3 linked regions of the Homo sapiens genome follow. The protein of the gene in region 3 interacts with the protein of the main gene of each other region in a biochemical or structural test. Each region holds a gene or a part of one and is shown on either strand. Other genes may lie near its edges.

Region 1 (3,833 bases), on a different chromosome or scaffold from region 3:
ATTGGCTCTGAGAGAGATGTAGAGAGTTTCATCCCAGAGAAGACTTCTTCTTCTGTTTTTCCCATAAATGGACTTTTAGTGATCTCTTCTTGTATTTCATCTGTATAAGTATCTGTTCTCATCTCTGGTATTAGTGTTTCTGTTCTTTCTCTTCTATGTGTCATTTCTGTTTGTAGAGAAGGATAAATAACTGTGGAAATTCCCTCTACTAATATTTTATCACCAGAATAAGGAAACAATTCTATTTCTGTACGATGCTGTGATGGAAAAGGTGTAGTAGACAGATATTTGCCAAGAAACTCTTCCGTTATCCTACCACTAGTTTGTCTCTCTTCCCAGTCATCCATGGATGATCCATTATTATCAGGCATAATTAAAGGGGAAACAGTTGTGGATGCTGAGACTGACTCCAAGTCTTCTAAATGAGTGTGGATGGTGTCTTCTGAAGTCTTTGACACCGTAATGACTTCAGGAATTTGGTCAAAGATCAAGGTGCTCTCATCAGATCCAACTGTAAGTGTTCTGTCTTCATCATCCTCTTCTCCCAAGGTGAATCCATAGTGACCTGTGGTTACCAATTCAGAAACAGTGCTTACCATTTTCTTTTCAGTTTTGGATTCCAGGATCATTCTTGCAGTTACCAATGGTGTTTCAGTTACAGGGAATTCCTTGGAAGGAATGTGCTTTAAGATTTCCATAGATGTTACCAAAGGACCCACTTCTATTTGTTCAATCTGTGTAACCGATTCTTGTGTTTGTTTATCTTCCACGACACCATCCCATGAATCCGTAGCATAATGAGAGACGCCAGTTGTACTCTGGAGCACTTCTTCCTTAATTTCTGATATGTCTAGCTTTCCAAGAGGTCCTGAAGCAGAAGGTGAGTAGTCATCCATATCCCAGGGCTTCTTGGTACTGCCAGTAGGTGTGGGTAATTTGGTGGCTAAACTATCTGTGATAGCCTGAGGTTGGACTGTGGCTTTCTGTTCAAAACTGACAATATTTCCCACGGGAGGGAACTCTGTTGGAATGACAGGTAATTCATCAACTAAAGGGATGATTGGTGTAGTTCTATCAGAAACCATTTGTGGTTCTTTGGATAAACTGGGTGATGCAGTTTCTGCGAGGATACTCAAATCGATGGTTGTAGCCTCTTTAGCTAGAAAAATAATTTCAAAGAGTTGATTAGACAAGTCACTAATAAAAACTTGTATGCCCAGTGTTTGTTAAGTGCTCCTGAGTATTTTGTAGGGAGTATTTTTGGGTGGCCCAGAAATGTTCTGTGATGGAGAGGAGTCTTAAAACTATACTTGAATTAACCCAAGGACAGATAATTGAACACTTAATAGTCATAAATTGATCAGTTGTTTTACGTTATAAGGGTTATCACTGCTTTTACCTAAAAGTATGCATGACTGTTACCAGTTGAGGAAAATTAATATTATGTAGTTTTAAGATAAGGAAAAGCTCCCAAAAATATAAATGCAGATTTTAGATACAGTAGATTGTTTATTTACCAGAAACTACAGCGTCAACTTGAAGCCTCGCAGGAGAATTTAGTACTATTCTTCTGGAGGCTTCTGTACCCTGTCTCCAGCTTTCTCCACATGCTCCCTTCTTTTCAAGTTGCTGCATATTATCTCAGGGGAGAGGGTGTGTCTCAGATTGCAAAACAACAAAAAAGCCACATGAAATGTATCCAAGTTACATATAAACCATTACATTGTCCATAATGTGGAGACTTTCATAAAAACAGGATATTAAAACTTTTTAATACCACTCTTCACTTGATCCCAGGTGTTGGACATTTGTCTTCATCCTTCTTTCAACTTCATGGTGTAGATTTGTTTCTAATAAATTATAAAATGTGCCTGGCAGAGGCTAGTCGGCATTTGTTGTAGTTCTACATTTTGTTCTATGTTCTACACACTCTGTTTGTATCTCCTAAGGATCTTGTTTCCAGGCTTACTTTAGCCTGAAACACAAATGTAGAACAGGAAGTAAAGTACCCACATAATGTATTTTAGGTCTGTAATTACAAATCACTGGGAACAACCCTAAGCATCAGAAAGAACAGGCTCAGGCAATATAAAGTAACCTGTCATCATAAAATGCTGCATTATAATGGCTCCAGATTTACAGAGAATGGCCTGGCCTGTTGAAAGAAATTTAAATTGTGTATAAAAGCAACAGTTTGTAAACAAGATTCTTTCTCAACACAGGGAAAAGGCAGCAGCCTACTATATAATGATTGTTTTTTTAAAATAAAAATCAGTATTTTTAAAAATAAAAACCTATTAATAGTTGCCACTGAACTCAAAAGAACTGTCCTGAAGAAACCTGTAGTTATTGTTTTGCTACATCCTATAGGACTTAAAGCTAGTTTTATGAGTAAATGCTTGTTTGCCCTGAAAAGAGGTGTAATAGCCATAGTATCTATAGTATCTTCTTTTTTATTTTTAATAATTCCAGAACAGGAGCCCTCAAAAAACAAAACAGGCTACCTTTTAGCTCCATTTGCTCTGTAAAAACTTAATCATAAAATGATGTGATTTTATTGTAAATCAGACTAGGGCTGTAACAGGTTCCTTATTTTTTGTCTGGCACGAGCTGTTATTAGTTGTGGTCATTCCCCAGACCATTTTAAAGCTCAGCTTCACTGATTTTATCATGAACATTTGAGGGCTATTTACATTATGATACATTTAAATATTCTTTAAAGTCTGTCATTATTTATCTTTCTAATATTAAAACAAAACTAACCAAAAAAGAGTTGGAGTTTAAAAACATTAAATAACCTTTTCCTCCCCTTTTTAAAGAAAAGCTTTTTCTACATTCATTTCCTGGAAGAAGCGTTGTTCTATTTTGATTGACATGAACAACTTAAAAACCCAAAATGTGGATGACTATTTTAATTCAATTCTCTATCCTCTGAAATTCCATAACCATTACTTCATTTAACTGCCAAATTTCATGTTTGTCTTATAACTGCATTCTTTGGGGAAATAGTAAAAAGATACATACAGAAAAAGTTCCCATGGAAACATAATATAAATACTTAGCAAACAGCATATTAGAGAAAATTTAATCATATTATTATTAATAACAACAAAAAAGCTAAATTTACTTTTTCCCTCTGAGTATTTCCTTGGCTGATGAAATTAACTTAGAAACAGGTACAATTGCATTAGGGCCAAAGGGGCTGTGAATCCAGGCTTCCTATGTTCCAATCCAAGCTCTCTGCTAGCAACTTTCTACAATGCTATGAAAATATGTTTATAGTGTTTTAAAAGTTGACTCATATTTTTAAAACTAAATAACTAGATTTCATTGTCAATTATTACTATGGAGTTTGCTGTTGCATTCCTTCCTCTAGTCCTGCTGTGTAATAAAGTGGTAGCAATATGTCCTAGAGAATCTGTTCTAGAAAGCCAGTATTTATGTGACTTTGTTTCCAAAAACAAGGGTTTTCAATAATTTTAGAGCCCTATTTTAAAAAAGAAAAGGTCTGCTTATAATTAAGTTAATTAATTCTACTACTTGGAATGGAAAACCTCAGACTTCCTTTTCAGTTTGGGTGGCTTTTTCATCAACTTAACAGCTGATTTTGATCACAAGTCAGTGTATCTGAGGATTTGTGCCATTTGTTTCAACCATTCCACAAAAGGAAATAATTTTATAAAGCACAATATCTACGAAGAGATATTTTAAGAATAAATACCACTGTATTCTGATGACTATTGTAAAGGTAAAAACAATTCCAGATTATTCTAACAGTGTCCTTCCAATAGGTGCATTCACATGGAGAAGTTTTGGCTCTGGAAAACTACCAG
Region 2 (3,600 bases), on a different chromosome or scaffold from region 3:
AGTGCAGAGCCAAATCCCAGGGCTTTTTGATATTTGCCATGGCCAGATTTATATCTGGAAGGAATGAAAGAACAATAACAAATTTATTTTCCAGTCTGTGTATTATGAATTTCAATGTTTTCCTGTTTCTTCACATGAAGTTTCCTTTCAGTTGGTTATAAAACCCTGTCTCGTTTATGTTGGAGAAAGAACAGGCTGACTGCAACACAGTGGACTTCAAGAGCTAGTTGAAAAGGCATGCTAACCCCATCTTTCCCCCTACTCCCCGCAGCCCCATTCCCTTTGGCTAGAGGCAGCCCTGGGACAGGTCTTGCCTCAAGCCCAGCCTCTTGGAAGAGCCACAGCTGAGTCCTGGGGGCCAAACAGGTTCCAGGCTAATAGGATTTTCCTAAAATGAAAGAATACCCAAGCACTACTGCCTCACAGCATCACGAATAGCTGCACCTTGTGATTAAAAAAAAAAAACCCTGGAAACTCCAAAAATGAACTAACTATAAGAATAGCTGGGGGGAGGCAGGTTGGTGCTCATAACCGGTCCTGGGAACTTTCTAAAGCAGGTGGGTTCGCCGGTGTTGTGCCTCAGCCTGAAACACAAGGAAAGCCGGAGAGACCAACCAAATACCAGGACTGCCTGTCACAGAAGTGCTGGTCCCCAATCCAGGATGACATTGTTACAGCTTAGTTTTCAGCACACACACACACACACACACACCCCACAGACACATACATACGCACACAAGGTTAATTTGTTCAAAGCAGTATGTTTTCAAGAGCTCGCTGAATAAAGACTGTGGGTGTCATTTAGGTAAAGTTCTCCAAGACTTAAGGATTACTTAACTGTAATTGCAATTTCCTTAAAGAATAGCAAAACATTTGCTTACATGTATCTCTGTCTGCAGTTCCCACTTCTCATTGGCTTGAAACTTCTGTGAGAATCCCACACAAACATAGAGCAAATCCAGCCCCGCGGTGTTCAGCTAGCCTGTCTGCTTGTCTATCAGCCGATGCGGCGCAGTAATTGCTAGTGAACTAGTAATTGGCCTCCCGAAATTTAAAAAATACATACAAAAATCCCTTAAAACGACAAAGTTGCTGCCCTTTCCAGAAAAGAAAGAGGAATGAAGCGCTGAGAATTTCGCAGCCCTCTCTGATGCTGGCTTTTGAAACTGTATTAGAAAATACCCACTCCCAAAAGAACGCTTCAAGATGGAAATTACAGAGGCGCAGCTTTTTATAATTAACAATATCATTGCATCACTAGCTCATGCCTTTTCCAATATCCTGACACCGCCTGAATCGCAGCCATAACCATTTTCCACCCATCGGATTTTTAGCAAGGCTTCCAGACCCTGGAGAAAGAAAAGTCCAGCGCCGAGAACCCACCTTTTTATTCCTGGCATGTCCAAGACGCGCGAGGAGGAGATGCGAAGGCGAGAAGAAAGCTCGCGGGCGGGACCCCCGGAGGAGCTCGGGCACGTCGGCCTCCTCTGGGCCCTCGGGGCTCGCGGGTGTTTTATTCCAGAGGGGCCGAGCGAGTCGTGGAGAGGACACGGGGAGAGCGCCGGGGTCCTCCCAGCCACTGCAGAGCCCTCAGCGCAAGCACCTGGTTTTGCTTAGCCCTCTTCAGTAATTCAGCATTAAACCAATTGGAGGAGGAATGTTAAAAATGAACACTTCATTTTCTAAGTATGTTAAACAATGCAAATGGGGCCTCAGTCTGGACACAGCTGGTTCAGATTACAGCGCTCACCAACTGGCTAGACTCCTCACAACAATCTTGGGGCGTCTGCCAGGGCCCAGTGCTCGGCGCTGGGAGGAGAGCCCTTCCCCGGCCGCGCTCGGCTGCGAGCGCCCGGGCAGAAGGCGAGGGGCGGGCGCGCGCAGGGGTGCGGGGGCTGGGAGGGCCCGGGCCCCTTGACCTTCCCACCCAGGGGCGGGGCGGGGCTGGCAGCGCGGCCCGGCGGGGAGGGGCGTGCACGCCCGCGCTGCGTGGCAAGGGGACCCGCGAGAACGTTGTCGCCTCCGGAAGGAAAGGGACTTGAACTCACGACCCACGCAGCTCCAGGGACTAGAAACTCACGATCGATTGGGAAACCAGAACCTACGAAGCAGAGGCTTGGGGCGAGCGACGGGAGAGTCGCGATCTTCCCGAAGAAGGGGTGGGGAGCAGCGGGGTGGGGTGGGGGGGAAGAGGATGGAATCCCGCTGGTGCGAATTCCAGACTTCAGCTTGTGCAATGCAAGTCTTAGGACGCTTTTCTCTCCCCGCCCTCATTCCCCGATTCTCCCTGGCATTTTCTCGCTTTCCTGGAAAAGTGTCCCCTGGCTCGAAAGTGATTTTAACAAGTTAAACGGTGATTTGAAGAAGGGACAGTCTGGAAAAGCAGAATGGTGGAGACAGCACATAAGACATGCTGAGTCCTTTGCATTCATTCTAGTGGAGGCTTCAACCTGTTTCTTTTTCCTGTTTGTTTGTTTGTTTGTTTGTTTGTTTTTAAGCCATTGGAGTACTTTTGTCAATGAAATCTTACAGAAGGCACTCACTCTATAAAACGCCAGTGGATGGACTGTGGCCTATCCCATCTGCTTCCACCTGCATCTTCCTACCTGCAGCCGAAAAGCCCTGATCCAGGTCCCCTGTCCTCACCACCACTCTAAGCAGTAGGAATGATCATCTCCATGTTATTAGAGGTGAAGATAAGAGAGGTTAGGTAACCTCCCCATAGTCACGCAGCTATTCATTGGTACAGCTGAGCCTCTGGAGTCTACATATTTAGCCTTCCCTAAGGCATTTTTGGGGGTAAGTAAATGGAATTCTACCCAAAGGAGAATAACAGAATGTGGATAGTTGTTGAAGCTGTGTCCATTATACTAGTCTAATCTATTTCCTTTTACGTGTTTGAAATTTCCTGTAAAACACTTTTTTAAATACCTTATGTTTATAAGGTTGTTCATCCCCCCATTGTTTGTAAAAGCAAAAGATTATAAACACCTTTAAGGTCGATCAGCAAGGCACCAATAGGGTTAAATAAAGTAAGGGGCTTCCAAAGGGACTATTGTGCAACCAATTAAAACCTAGACACTTAAGAGTCCACATCAAACGACTCCATTTATATAAAATTCAAAGTCAGATAGTGACTGGGAGGCAGCCCAGCCCCTTCTGGGTGCTGGTAATAATCTAATGATTGATCTGGATGCTGGTTATGTAGGGGTGTGTACATTTAATATTTGTGAAGTCTTATGTATGTTATATCTTATTTTGAAAAAAAGACTGAAACAGCTCCGTATGCACTGCTATTGAAGGGTTTCCAATATATTTTGTGGGTCAAAACAGTAGAATATTGGTAATTTCACATAGATTGATCTAATATAGTAATAAATGTAAAAAGTAAGCTGCAGAACTGTGTGTAAAGCATGCCATCATTTGTGGGAAAAAAAATAAATACATAAGTTCTTGCTTGTACACGTACAGAAAAGACATCACCTGAAGGATGCACAAGAAACCATGAGTATTATTGGTCTTAGCTCAGGCTGCTATAACAGAATACCATAGACTGGGTGGTTTATGCAATAACATTTATCTCTCCCAGTTCTGGAGGCT
Region 3 (3,833 bases):
TGGGCACTTCTCCTATAGACTTTTAGATGATTTGCCATGCACAGTGAAGTCTCGTAGGTGAGAGGTTACTTTTCCTCAGTCTCTATTACATGCCAAGCAGCGGGCTGAGCATTTTATAGATACATATCTCATTTGTAGTGTTCCACGTAGGTCCACATCACTTTCGTAAAGTAAGAGGCAAGCAAGCCACCTTACGCTAAATTCGTTTTTTTTTTTTAATCTATCTATGTAGTCACTGTTTTTGTTGTGAATTAAAATTTCACAAGCCACAATGTCTTTCAGGGAACTGTCATAATTAGTTGCATAATCTCCAGTGTCCCTAGTCCTATGGCATGTGTTTGCCTTTGTTGACGGAGATTGGAAAACCGCACACGCTTCTTCCAGGCCTCTGTCTCTGCCTCCTGTTAACATTCTTCGTGTGCAGTTGACACACAGTCACATTTTCAGGCTTGAGACTAGCTTTAAATAGCCATGACCACTCCACCAGCCATGATTTATATTAAGAACAAACAAACAAACAAAACCTTCTCTTATAGCAATAAGAGAAGCAAAACTTTCACTGTGACTATTTGTGTCACCAGAGGTGGCACAGTACCTGTTTTCCTTGGATATTTGGAGTAACAAAAGTAAACAAGGTATTAGGCACATGATCAAGAGCATAATCTGGTTTCTTGACTCCAAGGAGTTTTATATCAAACTCTGCATATTTAATATAAACTGTATAAAGAACACCCAACGGTTCCATAACAAAGAAAAGTATTCACATAAAAATACATGAGGGAATTAGTATACATGTCATAGCTAATGACTGATTTTGAGTTCACGTCTTGTTAACAAGGAACAACTATTAACTAATACATTAATCAGGGTCTTGTTTAAACTTCTACTGACAATCGTTATCATTTGTTTATTTCTACTGAAATCTTCTTTTCAATGAAGGAGAATGTGCTTAAATTTGACAAATGTGGGTAAAGGGAAGAATCTTGTGTTCCCTAATGGGATCCAGCCTTAGCTAACAGGTTCCCAGGACTCTTCGTGTCTGACCAACACTTATCAGAATGACAGAGCCTAAAGCTGAGCGATACCATGCCATATGGCAGTATCCCAAGGGTCCCCTATTGAACAGATTTGCAAAACTGTTCCATGTTCATATATGTTAGATATTTAGAGCAAATGTGAGACATACCATTCTACGTATGGACAAGACTATTTGCTCTGCTTTTATTTCTACAAACCAAATACAGTGGAGATTAAAACCTGTGTTTCCATATTTAGTGATAATCCCACAACAGGACATTATCAGGGAACTTGCACTTTCAGCTCTTTTCTCCCTCAGTAGGGATTAACAGGTTGCATCCCCCTCCGTAGGGATAAATGGGTTGCACTGATTTAACCACACTTGGTTACCCTCATTGACCAATGGATACACCCTTGCAGACCATGCGGCCAAGGCTGGATGTACAGCTTGTGGCCAGTCAGCTGAGGTTTTCTGTGCAGCAAGAGAAATGGTCAGCTGGAAACCTAATCCCTCTACAAACTGAACTGACCAGCTTAGAAATGAAGCTAAAACACACCTCAGTTTAAAAAAAAAAAAAAAAAAAAGCATCAGGAATGTTTAAATAACCTAATCTCATCAAGCCCAGCAAGGCTCCCAGTGGCTTCCCCATCAGTTACCTTCACAGGCTTTCCCGTCAGCACTGGGCACGAAGCCCATGTCGCATTCACAGCGGTATCCTCCTGGTGCATTGAGGCACTGGCCATTGCCACAGAGATTCAGGTTCTCAGAGCACTCATCAAGGTCTACAGCCAGAAAGAAACACACGTTACTCTTCCTCGGTTAGGGGCTTTCTAATTCCTCAGGTCTATCAACTTTCCAGTGCAGCAATGTTTTGGCATAACTTCAATTTGACACATTTAAAGTCATTTATTTTTCTCTTTGGTAGGCTAACACTGAATATGAAATTTACATGTGGCTGATTCAGAATCCTGAATGATAATTTACCCTGAATGATATAAAATGAATAAGCCGAAGGAATCATGCAAACTAAGGCCTGTTCAAGAAGGGTCATCCGCATGGAGGGCACACCCATGACAGGAAATGACACATCATGTTTGTGTCTATTTCTCAAGTTTCAGGCTTAGCTTAGATGGGCACCAAAAGTGCAAAAGAATGGCAACCATAGGGAGAAGAAAAATTCCATCTGCTTAATCTCTACCTAGTTTTCTTAATAATCACAGGCATTTAAATATCAAACACATAAACCACACATGCCTAATACATGGAATTTGAATATGTTCTCAAAATGATGGGAGGTTTTTGATGACAAAACATCAATAAGTTAGGCAAAAATGATTTCATCTGAGATAAAACTTTCAGGGAATAAAAAAAAATTCCAGGTAAATCACTTAATGAGCCTTAGCCTCTATTGTGCTTAAATGACTTTTTATGAACAAAGTGCTCAGGATAAATCAATGTTTTAAGTTATAGGAGCAGCTATGCGACCTAATGGCTAATGGATCTTATTATTTTATTTAACTCCAGAGCTCTGATATAAAAAGTGCTGTCTGTAAATATATGCACATGTAAGTATATGTATAATTTATGTAATGACAAGTCTAATCATGTATGTTTACATGTGTATAGAAGTTTATGTTAATTCTATGGCTATTAATTAGAGCCAAAAAGAAAATTTCATTAATATATTATTGCAAAACTGGAAGTGAATGAATTCCATAGCAGGTTTGAAATTTTTACTTATACCAATATGGAATGTTGATGATGACGATAATGATGATGATGATGGCCTGTTGGAGAGAAATACATACTGTTCTTCTAATCTAGAACATCTAATCCCTTCTCCTTACATAGTTCCCTACAGCAAGCTTATCCTTGTGTTGGTACAGAAAGGAAGTCATTGGTGAGAAATAGGCAAAAAAAAAATAATAATAAATAAAGGCTAGGCATATAAAAGGAAGTATGATTTGTTTAAACTAATGACATCATTATATACAGTCATATAATGATATATATGCCAATTGTAACTATTATAAGGCCTAGCTGACTTGAGGTGGAGAATGGTATGACTTTTTTGGTATCATTTTATGTTAGAGCACAGATCACTGTAAATGATGTGATAATGGCACCTAAATATCTATCTATCTATCTATCTACCTACGTATCTACCTATCGAGAAGCTTTTGAGGTCTCCCTAATTGACCTGGTTCCAATTTTTTTTTTCCCACAGAGCTCTAGTGCCAAATGATGAATCTTTTCTATTAACTGACCCAGTCTTCAAAAAAGAATTGCTAGCCTGAGAAATGTGGAATGCCTGGCTTCTCTGACTAGTGTTGACACAGTTGTTTCCAGCGTGAACATACCTGTACAAGTGAAGCCATCACCTGTGTATCCTTCCTTGCACAGACAGCGGTAAGATCCCATGGTATTCTTGCAGTCTGCATGCTGGCTGCACATATGGGTTCCATTGGAACATTCGTCCAGATCTTATAGAAAAAGGTTATATCATTATTAACAGAAAGGGTGGTATTTAAAACCAATAATACACAAATTAAAATAACTTTACATAATTAATATTTTCATATGTGTAATCTATGCAGTCCTTGATAAGCAACCTCTGTTACTTTCCTACTCACCAGTGCACTTAATGCCATCTCCAATCCACCCGGGACTGCAGCTACATTTGAAGCTTCCTGCTGTATTGGTACATACAGCATGTTTGCCACAGTTGTGTGCTCCAATTTCACATTCATTGATGTCTGGAAAAATGAGCAGTGATTTAGAAAAAGGCTCAGCACAAATGTCTTTTGGTTTTTAA

Evidence for each region.
Region 1: the proteins of FBN1 (region 3) and VCAN form a complex in vitro, tested with the Homo sapiens proteins (one study listed by BioGRID).
Region 2: the proteins of FBN1 (region 3) and FBLN5 form a complex in vitro, tested with the Homo sapiens proteins (one study listed by IntAct).

Annotation. Positions count from the first base shown.
Region 1 is NC_000005.10:83,516,675-83,520,507, reverse strand, and holds part of VCAN (versican core protein isoform 1 precursor), read right to left. Parts: intron 1,160-3,833; coding exon 1-1,159. UniProt on the Homo sapiens protein: May play a role in intercellular signaling and in connecting cells with the extracellular matrix. May take part in the regulation of cell motility, growth and differentiation. Binds hyaluronic acid.
Region 2 is NC_000014.9:91,945,830-91,949,429, forward strand, and holds the start of FBLN5 (fibulin-5 isoform 1 precursor), read right to left. Parts: upstream 1,866-3,600; 5' UTR 1,401-1,865; coding exon 1,384-1,400; intron 1,204-1,383; exon of another isoform or gene 950-1,203; coding exon of another isoform or gene 882-949; intron 1-881. UniProt on the Homo sapiens protein: Essential for elastic fiber formation, is involved in the assembly of continuous elastin (ELN) polymer and promotes the interaction of microfibrils and ELN. Stabilizes and organizes elastic fibers in the skin, lung and vasculature.
Region 3 is NC_000015.10:48,470,877-48,474,709, forward strand, and holds part of FBN1 (fibrillin-1 isoform a preproprotein), read right to left. Parts: intron 3,775-3,833; coding exon 3,652-3,774; intron 3,502-3,651; coding exon 3,379-3,501; intron 1,801-3,378; coding exon 1,675-1,800; intron 1-1,674.